Homo sapiens: one gene and its partner. The protein of the gene in region 2 interacts with the protein of the main gene of each other region in a biochemical or structural test. Each region holds a gene or a part of one and is shown on either strand. Other genes may lie near its edges.

Region 1 (7,037 bases), on a different chromosome or scaffold from region 2:
GGACAACAATCCAGAAGAGACTTTAAAATGTATTTTAACTATTCTGGCCATGAAAAGTGACCCAATTCTTCACTAATTCCCATCAAAATGAGAACCATGTGTTATACATCCAAAATGCTATAAACCTGAACAACATTTACTAAAATGAGATCTCAGACCTATAGTTTTATCTGCACGCCCACATTGCTCCTAGTAACTGCTGATTTTACAGCTGAGAAAATAAAACTAAGAAACTAAGTTAACGAGGACACACAATGTTGATAAGCACTAGCACTGGGATTTAATCCTTTTTTTTTTTTTTTTTTTTTTTTTTTTTTTTTTTTTTTTTTTTTTTTTGCTTTAGTCCAATGCTCTTTCCAGTAGATCAGAACTGCCTAACTTCATCAAATATTTCCACTCTCAGATGGGCAAGGAGCCAGGGGGAAGGTCAGGTCCCAGTTCCCTAACAAGAATTTCTGGTACACTGCTCAGTGTTTCACAAAACTACATTTTAGTTCCTCTGACATATTCATAATTTTTCAAGAAAAAATATATTCACCTTCAACATTTTTTTGTTTGCAGTGTTCTTGCCACAGTCTCTCCTTAGCTGTTCACTCATTGCTTGCAGCTCTCGTCCAAAGTGGATCATTCTTTCTATGGCGGCCTGACTTCCTCCACACAACTGGCGTCTCAACTGACTTGAATCAACTTCTGTAAGAAAAACAGACAAGTATTTTACTACCTTATGGAATGGAGTATAATGAGGACACGAACATACATTTCTTATACCATTTTGTACATTTAGTAACTATTCCCTAATATTTCATCTAAATATGCAGATTGTTAAAAATTCATTTTTAATATGAAACTGCAGCTAAAAGATATACTTTATTTAGCTCTCAAGAGTCTAGGATCCAGTATTCAGCATGCAGTTGAGAGGGGACAACCTTTCAGTGTTAGAGGGTACTTATGTCAGAAAAAAATTTTAGAAAAAGTATAATTCCCTAAAACTACATTAAGCAACATTTAAAAAAAAAAAAAAAAAAAGGAAAACTGTTAATAATGCCACTCAGGCTGCCTTAACTGACGTAGTAGAGATGTAATAAAATGCTCCTGAAAGCTAAGAAAAGCTAAATGACTACAATAAAAATACAGAAGACAGCATATTATACTAACTGAAAAGATTAAATGCACTACTTTTAGAAAAATACCACTTTGAAAAAATAATTTTTTTTTTTTTTGGATGGAGTCTCACACTCTGTCACCCAAGCTGGAGTGCAGTGGTGTGATCCCAGCTCACTGGAACCTCTGCCTCCCAGGTTCAAGCAATTCTCCTGCCTCAGCCTCCTGAGTAGCTGGGATTACAGGCACGCGCCATCATGCCTGGCTAATTTTTGTATTTTTTAGTAGAAATGGGGTTTCACCATATTGGTCAGGCTGGTCTCAAACTCCTGACCTTGTGATCCGCCCACCTCGGCCTCCCAAAGTGCTGGGATTACAGGCGTGAGCCACCATGCCCAGCTAAGAAAATAGTTTTATATATCTTGATTGATAAAATAATTTAACTGTATAAATTACTTATAAGTCATTAAAAATAAGGTAATGACGATGATGATGGTTAATATTTCCCAAGCACTTTGTGCTATTAGCTTTTTGGATTATTCATTTACTTTCACAATAACTTATGAGGTCGTTATTATACCCATTTTACAGATGAAGAAACTGAGACACAGAGCAGTTAAGTAATTTTTCCAAGGTCACACAGCTAGTAAATGGCAGTTTTGCAGAAATCAAATCTATGTAATCTGGCTCTAGAACTCCTGCTCTTTATCACTGTACTTAAATTACTCTTCAGAAACTGAGGTGGCTGATATTGAAGAGTAAAACAAAGCTGCATTTCTTTTTAAAAAACAATTTTAGTAATACCACTCAATCTCAAAATAATAAGAAATCTAACATTGCCATGGAATTCCAACAAATAAATGAAAAAATGTAATCCAACAAATAAATTTTCACTCTCCATTTGATGGGATAGTTTGCTGATGGGACAGGCAATTTACTACTTAAGTTGTCTACAAAATAAAATTATGCATGCTAATGTGTCTTGGAGCCACATAATTTTTTTGTTGGTGGTGGGGTTTTTTTTTTTGGTGAGGGAGGTCATACTTAAGCACCTACTATATACCAGGGATAGTACTATGCAAAGTCACACACGTTTACGTTAAACTCATTTAAGAAATACTGATTAGAAATTTGTAAAATCATCTAACCATTTGGCCTTACTGACTATACTGACATAAATATAAGAAGTTCTATCATCTCCAACCTAAAATAGCCTAGAGGCTCAACACCAGTAAGTCAGTACTGCTGCATTAGTGACAGCGCTAAACCTGAGCCTAAGCAGTTCAGCAAGAAACACTGCCTGTAGCTGAAAGGTAACTCTACTTTCTCTAGCAGCCCACTCAAACAAGAGTTTAAGTGCTATGCATTACTGTCAAGTCCTACAGCACATACATCTTTAAATCTGGTTTATGCTCATCAGCTGTGAATCAGTACAAGTAAAAACATAACCTTGTAGCCATCATTTTTTATTAAAAATGTAAGAAATATCACTGCAGACCCATTTCGGTGTCACAATCTTCCATTTCGTGGTCATGTTTAGAGCTACCATTTAGGAAACCATTGGATGAAGTTTCTCCAACTCCATTGGAGTAGTGATCTGTTTCCATGTCTACATCATTACTGAAAACGAAAAAACAAACCTAATTTTAGAAATATCATACTTGCAGCTTAGTTTAAAATAAATCACTACTGAACTACATAGCCTACGAATAAACTAATTTCATAAGGCAACAGAAATCTGCAAAAAAGGTATTTAGTTAAATCTTGAACGTATTCAAAGCCAAACATGTCGCTGACTTTTAACAAATTTGTACCCCCGGAGGTAAGGGAGGAAAAAAAGTACATATGCTAAAATGTAGTGGTTTTATGACTTTACATCAATATGGAGAAATCATACTTCCACACAATCCTATTATTTTTCAAATTCAGATCTGTACGTCTTCGTTAATCAACTGCTGCCCCACCAACTCCCCAGCCAGCCCTCTCCCCCTACCCCCAGCACTGATTTCTAGTATGTAAGGGGAAAACCTCACTCTCAAAACAAATACATCTCACTCCTGGAACCCGCTTCACCTCGTTCCGGACCTCATACTCAATCCACTCCTAGGCTGTTTTTAAATAGCATTCTGGCATTTGTCCTCACTACTTAAAAATATACATTCTTTCAAGGGTAACTGATAACTTAAAAAATGATTGAGCTTCATTCTCTCATCCCTTTTCACCACACGACAGAGAGTGAACTCACAGGCTATCTTATTGGCTAAAGTATTGCTGAATCTTAACTTTTAAACTGATGTCCTGGATAGTTTCCAGTTTTCACTCATTCCACTCAATGAATATCTATCTGCCAATAACTATATTTGCACATATTTAAGCTGTCAATGTATGTCCTTCAGAACCATCCGCACTCTTATAAGCAACAATAAATATCTAATCTTTAGGATTTATCCTATGGAAGCCTAGGTAATAATTATACAATCTAGAAGTAAACACTCGATGAAATTTTAGGTAATGCTTAGATAAAAATGACATTTCTCATTACAAAAGCAATATATATTCAATTGTAGAAAAAAAAACACAGATGAGCAAAAACCACTATGCGTAATACCACCAGAGGTAACAAATTCTAACACCTTGGGGGTGTGTGTGTGCATGCATACACTCCTGTTAGTAAAATTGTTAAGGTAAAAAAAAAAAAAACAAGAGATCTAGGGAAAAGGGGGATATGGCCCTACGACTCCAGAGCAGACTTACTCAACCAGGAAAGCTTGTTTATAATCTTAACAAACTTCGAAAATTGGTAAGAAAAACCAAACTTTAAGAATAAGAAAATCCTTACCATCACAGCTTTCAGTGGCTTTTTAAAAAATACTAAACTTTTTTTTTTTTTTTGATAACTCAGTTTAGTATTTGGAAGGAACTCGTTCATTTAACACACATTTAAGAGCCTCTGAGGTATGATCCCTGTTAGGTGCTAAGGATATTATGAAACAGCCTCTGCCTTCCTGTAGCAAACAACCTATAAAAAGCTAATTAAGTTATTATATTACAGAGTAATTATGATCAGTACTATGATGGAAGTTAATCACAAAACATGACATATTTGATGGGATGTAAATCAAGGAAAACATCCTGGAAGAACTGACATCTGAACTTGAATTTTCTCAGCCTGGACAGAAGTTATACTGGAGGTGAGGGAGGGTAGGAAGAAGAGCATTTCAGATGGTGGGCGGTATCAGGGAAAAAGCACAAGTTTGCAAGTCAAATCCTGAAACGCAGCCTCAGCTCTGCAACTTACTAGCTACTAATAATTGACCTTAAGAAAAAAAAGTCATTTACTTTTCTGATATCCCGCTCTACATCTGTAAAATGGTTTAAATAGTTAATACCATCTTTGCCTACTTCACAGTTAGGAAAGCCATTACCAACTACAAAATAACTTATAGCTTAAGGCAGTTCAAAGTTGACTTTCTTTCCCTTTTATACTGCAGACAAAGGAGGATGTTGTGTCATCAGACCCTTCCGTTAAGCTTGCTTCCCTGAACTCAGGTAATAATAGATCTGTTTAGCAACTTCCTGCTGTAGGGATAGTATTCAAGAGAAAAACTCACAAACTGACTGCAATCTTACCCTCAAACATTGGCAAGAGCCTTGATCAATGATAAAGTACCAATGCATTTAGTATAAAGCATGATGAAGTACTTAACTTTTTACATTTCCATCTATTTTTAAACTATAATATTTTGATTTTATATTTTCCAATATATCACCTCTGCTGTGAAAGACGATTTTTCTGCTCTTCTCATACACTTTTGTGGTTCTCCATTACAACTTATATCAATCACACACACTATTACTTCAGTAAATTTTTGTCACGTGTGACAGACAACCCAGAAATTGAGATTAATCTCCCAATTTTCAAATACAGATTTTTTTTTACATACAATCCTTTCTGCAAAATCATATTTCCATTAAGATTCCATGCTAAAAGTTAGGCTCTCTCTCCTTTAATAAGAAAATGTGGCACTGATGACCATTTCCTGAAAATGCAATGTAACCAACTGGTTTGTTATAGACCAAACCAATATTAAATTGACCCAGTCCTGGATGATTTGGGCAGGGTGAATTCACAATAATTTGCTACTGCACAGTAGTATTTAATTCAAATAATGTCACTTCATGAACTTTTAGGTTTCATAAATATTAAACCTGAGTATATCAAGGGTCATAGTACACTGACTGAGATATCATCTTTCAAACCTCTTCAAAGTGAGACACCCTACCTAGCAGAATGTTTGGTGCCCAACAAATCCTCAAAACCATCCTCACACCAATGTTTACTAAATGACTTAACCATCTGCTATATGCAAGCTACTTAAAGGCAGGCTTTCAAAAAAGATTATTTGTAAAGTTAGTTTTGAACTTGGAAAACATTCTACACATTTACACCAAAAAAAACTCACACACAGAGAAAAAATCAGTTGTAAATTTATCTTATGTCACCGTTCAAGGTTAAATATGCTACTGTGTCTTAACCACTGTGAAAACATAACAAATGGCATTTATGTGATCATTTGTATAGCTCTGTGGCTGGCAGGAAGACAATGCATGAAGCCCTGAATTTGTCCTTATAACTTTACTAGAGGGAAGAAGGTAGTAGAGAAGAGGAAGAAACTAAGGAAAGAGCTCATGTGCATAATAGGAGACTAAAAAGCTTTGGGGAACTGACTCCCTACGCTTTTATTCTCTGGGGGCTTAAGAACTCCCAGAGCCCCTCTGTGGGTCACATAATTCAAGTTCTTTCAAAATTATTACAACGATTACACCTATAACTAGGTTGCTTATATTAGTGCAAAAGTCAGTGAAATTACTTACCTGGTGAAGTTATTAACTTGCTGTGATCTTGACATATTTATACTGTTTAGTTCTGGTACATTCAAGTTGGATGACTGGTGTTTATTACTATGGCAATATGATTGATGTGCTTTATTTGATATTACACCATTACTACAACTTTCAAAACCTGAAGAAAAAGATACCACGTAGAAACAGAAACAAACACTAATTTATTAATACGGTTGTAAACAAGTCTCCATGTTGATTTTGTACTAAGACTTCTAGAACGTAGGAGAGTCAATGGATGATGTAAACAGGTAACTTCTTTGAAAGGATACTAAGAATACTTAATTGTGAGATCTTAATTATTACCTCATCTAACATTTATTGAAGGCTTAATTACACATCTCATTTAATCCTCAAAATCCCCCTAAAATGGCAATATTATGATCATCCCCATTTTACATATGAATACACTGAGGCTCAGAATTTATCCAAGCCTGAAGTGACTGTATGATATTCAAGAGGAGTAGTGGCTAAGAACAGACATGGGAATCACACTTGTTGTACAGAGTGGTGATGTAAATAAACTGAGAGGAAGTAATGCAGAAAAGAGAATAAATTGAAATAAGAAAAAGCAATGGTGTTACTTCATGAAAGGAAAGGAGACACTATCTGACTTGTTTAAGAATGTTAAATGTACAAAGATAACATCTTGGGAAATGCAGAATTAAAGAGATGGGCAAACAGAAGACTGAGAAGCATCAGAAATAAATCTGTGGCTGGGCACGGTAGCTCACACCTGTAAGCCCAGCACTTTGGGAGGCTGAGGCAGGAGCAGTGCTTGAGGCCAGGAGTTTGAGACCAGCATCAGAAACATTGCGAGACTCCAACTCTTTAAAAAGAAACAAAAACAAAACCAAAAAAACCTGTAGAAGTGATGTCACAAAAGCCAAGAAAGGAGAGAATTTTAATTAAGAGAAAGCCCAAAGTCACAGAGAGTAAGACTGGTGAGCCAACAAACGGATGGGAGAAAACGAACTAGGCAGAGCTGACTTTTGCAAGAGGCTTGGTTGGGAAAGGTTGGGGGTGGGGGGAGA
Region 2 (7,037 bases):
CAACTAACATACTTGGCATAGAGTCTAATGTCCCTTGTCATATATGCTATTTTTAAATTTCTCATCTCAGGTTTCAGATTACAGAGAGTTGTAATTTTAATGTGATAAGATTTGAATTAAAGTTTGTTTGTTTGTTTGTTTGTTTTCCCTGATACGGAGTCTAACTCTGTCGCCAGGCTGGAGTGCAGTGGTGTGATCTCGGGTCACTGCAATGTCCGCCTCCCGGGTTCAAGCAGTTCCGGTCACTACGCCCAGCTAATTTTTGTATTTTTAGTAGAGATGGGGTTTCACTGTGTTGTCCAGGGTGGTCTCGAGCTCCTGACCTCGTGATCCGCCTGCCTGGGCCTCCCAAAGTGCTGGGATTACAAGCGTGAGCCACCACACCCGGCCAAAAGTTCTTTATATTTTATAACACTGGCTCATTCAGAGTATATATGAAAGTTTGTTTTGGGATGTTGCCCAGGTTTGATTATCATTAAAAATACTTTTATCTATGAAGAAAAAAAAACTTATAAAGAAAATGATTAACTTTCTCTTTGCTTCTTAGTCTGATGACCGGGATTCCAAGCGGGATTCCCTTGAGGAGGGGGAGCTGAGAGATCACCGCATGGAGATCACAATAAGGAACTCCCCGTATAGAAGAGAAGACTCTATGGAAGACAGGTGAGCGGATGTACAGATGTGCAAGACCCAGCTGTACACAGCCCTGGCCTGGCCGGTCCTTCCTAGGGTCGCTGTGACAACTGTGTGCTGTTGTAACTATTAAGGTTTACTCTTTCCTAGAGTTACTGTGACATAGCGTAACTATTGAGGTTTTTATGTCACAGTTGTGACTGACTCTCAAGTGTTGTCTGTGGCCCTCCAGACCCTTGCCCCTTCTTTCTGTAAAGAACTTTGCCATGTGTTACACTGATTAATAAAATATACTATATAGGATTTTGCACAGGCCAGGTGTGGTGGCTCACACTTGTAATCTCAGCACTTTCGGAGGCCAAGGCGGGCTGATCAGCTGAGGTCAGGAGTTCGAGACCAGTCTAGCCAACATGGTGAAACCCCGTCTTAAAAGGAAAAAAAGGCCGGGCGCGGTGGCTCACGCCTGTAATCCCAGCACTTTGGGAGGCCGAGGTGGGCGGATCACAAGGTCAGAAGATCAAGACCATCCTGGCTAACACAGTGAAACCCCGTCTCTACTAAAAATACAGAAAATTAGCCGGGCGTGGTGGCAGGCGCCTTTAGTCCCAGCTACTCGGGAGGCTGAGGCAAGAGAATGGCGTGAACCCAGGAGGTGGAGCTTGCAGTGAGACAAGATCATGTCACTGCACCCCAGCCTGGGCGACAGAGCAAGACCCCGCCTCTAAAAAAAAAAAAAGGAAAAAAAAGATTTTGCACAAATAAAGTAGAATGCTGAAAGATACCTGAGGAGGGCCGCTGATGAGAAATGTTCATATTGGCCGGACGCGGCAGCTCACGCCTGTAATCCCAGCACTTTGGGAGGCCGAGGCAGGCAGATCACTTCAGCCCAGGAGTTCAAGACCAGCCTGGGCAACACAGGGAGACCTCGTCTCTACACAAAATAAAAAAAAGAAGATGAGAAAAACTAAATGAGTTTTCCTGCCATAGCAGGTGCCCCTCATGGTCATCATCAGGGTTTTCAGGGCCTAGCTTCTAAGCACCCCTGACAGAGCCTAGAATAGAGACAAGGAAATGGATGAGACTGGGGTAACAGAGCAAGACCCTGTGTGGAAAAAAAGGAAATGTTCTTGTTGAGACCTGTGTGTTCCGACGTTTCTTCCTGTGCCATGAACTGTTTCTCGTTTGTTTTCTTCTCATATCTAGCTCGTATACGTCATCAGGTATTAGTAATTAAAGGAAACACAGCCAGAAATTACGGTATAATGGTTTTCCTGAGAAGCTTAAGGTGTGAATTTTCCCAGAATTTTGGTGATACAGAAATCAGCTGAAGATACTGTTAAATGACGCTTTGAGATTATGAAGATTGTTTTGTTGTTGTTGTTGTTGCTTTGACACAGAGTCTTACCCTGTCGCCCAGGCTGGAGTGCACTGGCATGATCTCGGCTCACTGCCACCTCCAGCTCCCGGGTTCAAGTGAGTCTCCTGCCTCAGACTCCTGAGTAGCTGGGATTACAGGCATGCGCCACCACGCTCGGGTGTGTGTGTGTGTGTGTGTGTGTGTGTGTGTGTGTGTATTTTTAGTAGAGACGGATTTCACTGTGTGGTCACACTGGTCTTGAACTCCTAACCTCAGGTGATCTACTTGCCTCAGCCTCCCAAAGTGCTGGGATTACTGGCGTGAGCCACTGCACCCAGCCAAAATTGTAGGATCTTTTAACAGATTTATTGGGGAATAAATAACATAAAATGAGCTGCCCTTGTTTAAATATGATGTGAATGGCTGGGTGCAGTAGCTCGCGCCTGTAATCCCAACACTTTGAGAGACTGAGGCAGGTGGATCACCTGAGGTCAGGAGTTCAAGATCAGCCTGGCCAACATGGTGAAAGCCCGTCTCTACTACAAATACAAAAATTAGCCTGGCATGGTAGTGTACACCTGTAGTCACAGCTACTCAGGAGGCTGAGGCAGGAGAATTGCTTGAACCTGGGAGGCAAAGGTTGCAATGAGCCAAGATTGTGCCTCTGCACTCTAGGCTGGGGGAAAGAGCGAGATTCTATCTGAAAAAAATAAAAATAAAGCTGGGTGCGGTGGCTCACACCTGTAATCCCAGCACTTTGGGAGGCCGAGGTGGGTGGATCATGATGTCACAAGTTTGAGACCAGCCTGACCAATATGGTGAAACCCCGTCTCTACTAAAAATAAAAAAATTAGCCGGGTGTGGTGGCGCATGCCTGTAATCCCAGCTACTCCTTAGGCAGAGGCAGGAGAATTGCTTGAACCTGGGACTGGAAGGGGAGGTTGCAATGAGCCGAGATCGTACCACTGCATTCCAGCCTGGGCAACAGAGCGAGACTCCGTCTCAAAAAAATAAATACAGGCCGGGCGCAGTGGCTCACGCCTGTAATCCCAGCACTTTGGGAGACCGAGGTGGGCGGATCATGAGGTCAGGAGACCAAGACCATCCTGGCTAACATGGTAAAACCCCGTCTCTACTAAAAATACAAAAATTAGCCAGCGTGGCGGCGGGCGCCTGTAGTCCCAGCTACTCGGGAGGCTGAGGCAAGAGAATGGCATGAACCCGGAGGGTGGAGATTGCAGTGAGCCGAGATCGTGCCACTATAGCCCGGGCAACAGAGCGAGACTGTCTAAAAAAAAGAAAAAAAGAAAAAAAAGATGCCTAAAGTTGGAGAATTAATGTAATTTTTTAAATGATGTTTCAGCTTTGTTCCTGTCTGAATCATGCATTTTTCTGGGTTGAAGAAACCTTATAATAGCCTGATGCTTCTTTGCACTTTCTCAAGCATGATGCAGTGCTGTTGTGTTTTATTTCAGAGGAGAAGAAGATGATTCTTTGGCCATCAAACCACCCCAGCAAATGTCTCGGAAAGAAAAAGCTCATCACAGAAAAGATGAAAAGAGAAAAGAGAAACGTAGGCATCGTAGCCATTCAGCAGAAGGGGGTACAGAAGCATTTACTTTCTTTGACATCATGTTCAAGTGTGGTTTCTTTCCTGTTCCTACTCTTCTGCCTTCCCCAGAGCACCACTGAAAAACCAGAGAAAGCAAACTCTAGCTGAAAGCATACGTGTGTCACAGACCGTTCAGAATGGCTATAGAGAGAATACTCTAGCTAAAAGCATGCGTGCGTCACAGACCGAAAACCAGAGAGAGCAAACTCTAGCTGAAAGCATGCGTGTGTCACAGACCGAAAACCAGAAAGAGCAAACTCTAGCTGAAAGCGTGCGTGTGTCACAGACCATTCAGAATGGCTATAGAGAGAATAGCTGAAAGCATGCATGTGTCACAGACCGTTCAGAAGGGCTATGAGAGCAAACTAACTAAAAGCATGCGTGTGTCACAGACCAAAAACCAGAGAGAGCAAACTCTAGCTGAAAGCACGCGTGTGTCACAGACCATTCAGAAGGGCTATACAGAGCAAACTCTAGCTAAAAGCATGTGTGTGTCACAGACTAAAAACCAGAGAGAGCAAACTCTAGCTGAAAGCATGCATGTGTCACAGACCATTCAGAAGGGCTATACAGAGCAAACTCTAGCTAAAAGCATGCGTGTGTCACAGACCAAAAACCAGAGAGAGCAAACTCTAGCTGAAAGCGTGCGTGTGTTACAGACCATTCAGAAGGGCTATAGAGAGAATACTCTATCTGAAAGCATGCGTGTGTCACAGACCATTCAGAGGGGCTATAGAGAGCAAACTCCAGCTGAAAGCATGCGTGTGTCACAGACCGTTCAGAAGGGCTATACAGAGCAAACTCTAGCTAAAAGCATGCATGTGTCCCAGACCGAAAACCAGAGAGAGCAAACTCCAGCTGAAAGCATGCGTGTGTCACAGACCATTCAGAAGGGCTATAGAGAGAGTACTCTAGCTGAAAGCGTGCATGTGTCACAGACCATTCAGAGGGGCTATAGAGTACTCTAGCTGAAAGCATGCGTGTGTCACAGACCGTTCAGAGGGGCTACAGAGAGCAAACTCCAGCTGAAAGCATGCGTGTATCACAGACCGAAAACCAGAGAGAGCAAACTCTAGCTGAAAGCGTGCGTGTGTCACAGACCATTCAGAATGGCTAGTCCATTTTTCCTCTGGGGTTTTCTCTCCCCCATTATATTGTTTGGAAGCAGTTTGTTTACATTTAAAATGACCTGAATTCAACAAGTATAGGAGAAAAACACACCCCAAAATGGGTATTTGCTCAAGTCCAAAGAATGGGTTTGGCTTGAGCAGTTTGATCTCGTACCAACATCAGGAGGTTCTTACGGGTGTTAGGAAAATTGGACCTGGAGCCCGATTGAAATGTCATGATTATAAATACACTTGATTAATTAATGTGGCTTCATTGCACAGTGGAGAAGCCCACTGATAGCAAAGCTTTGTTCTGTAGTCTTTGTGAAGAGTGATTTTTGTATTATAAAACTGATAATTATAGTTTATTCAGTATGGAAAAGTTTTAAAAGACGAATATTACAATTCTGCTCTTCTGTGATAGCAGAATTGTTTTTCTTTTTTCTTCTTTCTTCATAATTAGACGCTTACTGCAGATAGTTTTTTATTTTCAAAGTTTTTTATTTAACATAAAATCATGATTATTCGGCTGGGTGCAGTGGCCCAGGCCTGTAATCCCAGCACTTTGGAGGATCAATTGAGTCCGGGAGTTCAAGACCAGCCTGGCCAATATAGCGAGACCCTGTCTCTTTAAAAAAAAAAAAAAAAAAAAAAAAGGCCGGGCGCGGTGGCTCACAACTGTAATCCCCACACTTTGGGAGGCCGAGGCCGGCAGATCACGAGGTCAGAACATCAAGACCATCCTGGCTAACATGGTGGAACCCCGTCTCTACTAAAAAGACAAAAAATTAGCCGGGCGTGGTGGCAGGCGCCTGTAGTACCAGCTACTCGGGAGGCTGAGGCAGGAGAATGGTGTGAACACGGGAGGCGGAGCTTGCAGTGAGCCGAGATTGCGCCACTGCACTCCAGCCTGGGCGACAGAGCAAGACTCCATCTCCAAAAAAAAAAAAGAAAAAAAAGAAAAATTAGGATTACTTAACGTTAACATCATTATTTAAATATTTATTTAAATATTTACTGTTCTTGATTTAATTTCTTTTTTTTTTTTTTTTGGGACGGAGTCTTGCTTGTCACCCAGGCTGGAGTACAGTGGCGCAATCTCAGCTCACTGCAAATTCCATCTCCTGGGTTCACGCTATTCTCCCGCCTCAGCCTCCCGAGTAGCTGGGACTACAGGTGCCCGCCACCACACCCAGCTAATTTTTTGTATTTTTAGTAGAGATGGGGTTTCACCGTGTTAGCCAGGATGGTCCCGATCTGACCTTGTGATCCGCCCACCTCGGCCTCCCAGAGTGCTGGAATTACAGGCGTGAGCCACCGCGCCCGGTCTTAATTTCAGTTTCACGTGGGTTTTTTTTTTTTTTTTGCCCAGGCTGTAGTGCAGTGGCGTGATCTCGGCTCACTGCAACCTCCGCCTCCCGGGTTCAAGCAATTCTTCTGCCTCAGCCTCGCTTAGTAGCTGGGATTACAGGTGCCTGCCACCACGCCCAGCTAATTTTTGTATTTTTAGTAGAGACGGGGTTTCACCATGTTGGCCAGGATGGCCTTGAACTCCTGACCTCAGGTGATCCGCCCGCCTCAGCCTCCCAAAGTGCTAGGATTACAGGCATAAGCCTCCGTGCCCGGCTTCATGTGAAATTTTTGAAGTGAGGTTTCTTTGCATGACACTTTATTTCTCATTAGGGAAGCATGCTAGAGTGAAAGAAAAAGAAAGAGAGCACGAACGTCGGAAACGGCATCGAGAAGAACAGGATAAAGCTCGCCGGGAATGGGAAAGACAGAAGAGAAGGGAGATGGCAAGGGAGCATTCCAGGAGAGAAAGGTGAGTCGGCTGGGTCAGTTGAGGACTTTATAAAAGGGCTGTGGTAGTGTGTCCCATCCTAGAAATGAAGAAGAATTTGGCAATAGAAGTCACATCTGAGCCAGGTGTGGTGGCTCACGCCTGTAATCCCAGCACTTTGGGAGGCCGAGGTGGGCGGATCATGAGGTGAGGAGATGGAGACCATCCTGGCTGACATGGTGAAACCCCGTCTCTACTAAAAAAATACAAAAAATTAGCTGGGCATGGTGGCGGGCACCTGTAGTCCCAGCTACTTGGGAGGCTGAGGCAGGAGAATGGCGTGAACCCGGAAGGTGGAGCTTGCATTGAGCTGAGATCCCGCCACTGCACTCCAGCCTGGGCGACAGAGCGAGACTCCGTCTCAAAAAAAAAAGAAGAAGTCACATTTGGTGCAGAAGTGGTAGACATGGAAACAGCACAGTGAACGCTGGACGAGGCTGACCAAGAGAACTGTCCTGAGGGAGTGAGTTTTCACTGCATCTGGAA

What was found. The genes of interacting proteins can lie anywhere in the genome.
Region 1: the proteins of CDK11B (region 2) and RANBP9 form a complex in vitro, tested with the Homo sapiens proteins (one study listed by BioGRID).

Annotation. Positions count from the first base shown.
Region 1 is NC_000006.12:13,631,832-13,638,868, forward strand, and holds part of RANBP9 (ran-binding protein 9), read right to left. Parts: intron 6,125-7,037; coding exon 5,977-6,124; intron 2,722-5,976; coding exon 2,600-2,721; intron 691-2,599; coding exon 539-690; intron 1-538. UniProt on the Homo sapiens protein: May act as scaffolding protein, and as adapter protein to couple membrane receptors to intracellular signaling pathways. Acts as a mediator of cell spreading and actin cytoskeleton rearrangement.
Region 2 is NC_000001.11:1,648,995-1,656,031, reverse strand, and holds part of CDK11B (cyclin-dependent kinase 11B), read left to right. Parts: intron 1-547; coding exon 548-663; intron 664-3,465; coding exon 3,466-3,593; intron 3,594-6,394; coding exon 6,395-6,533; intron 6,534-7,037. UniProt on the Homo sapiens protein: Plays multiple roles in cell cycle progression, cytokinesis and apoptosis. Involved in pre-mRNA splicing in a kinase activity-dependent manner. Isoform 7 may act as a negative regulator of normal cell cycle progression.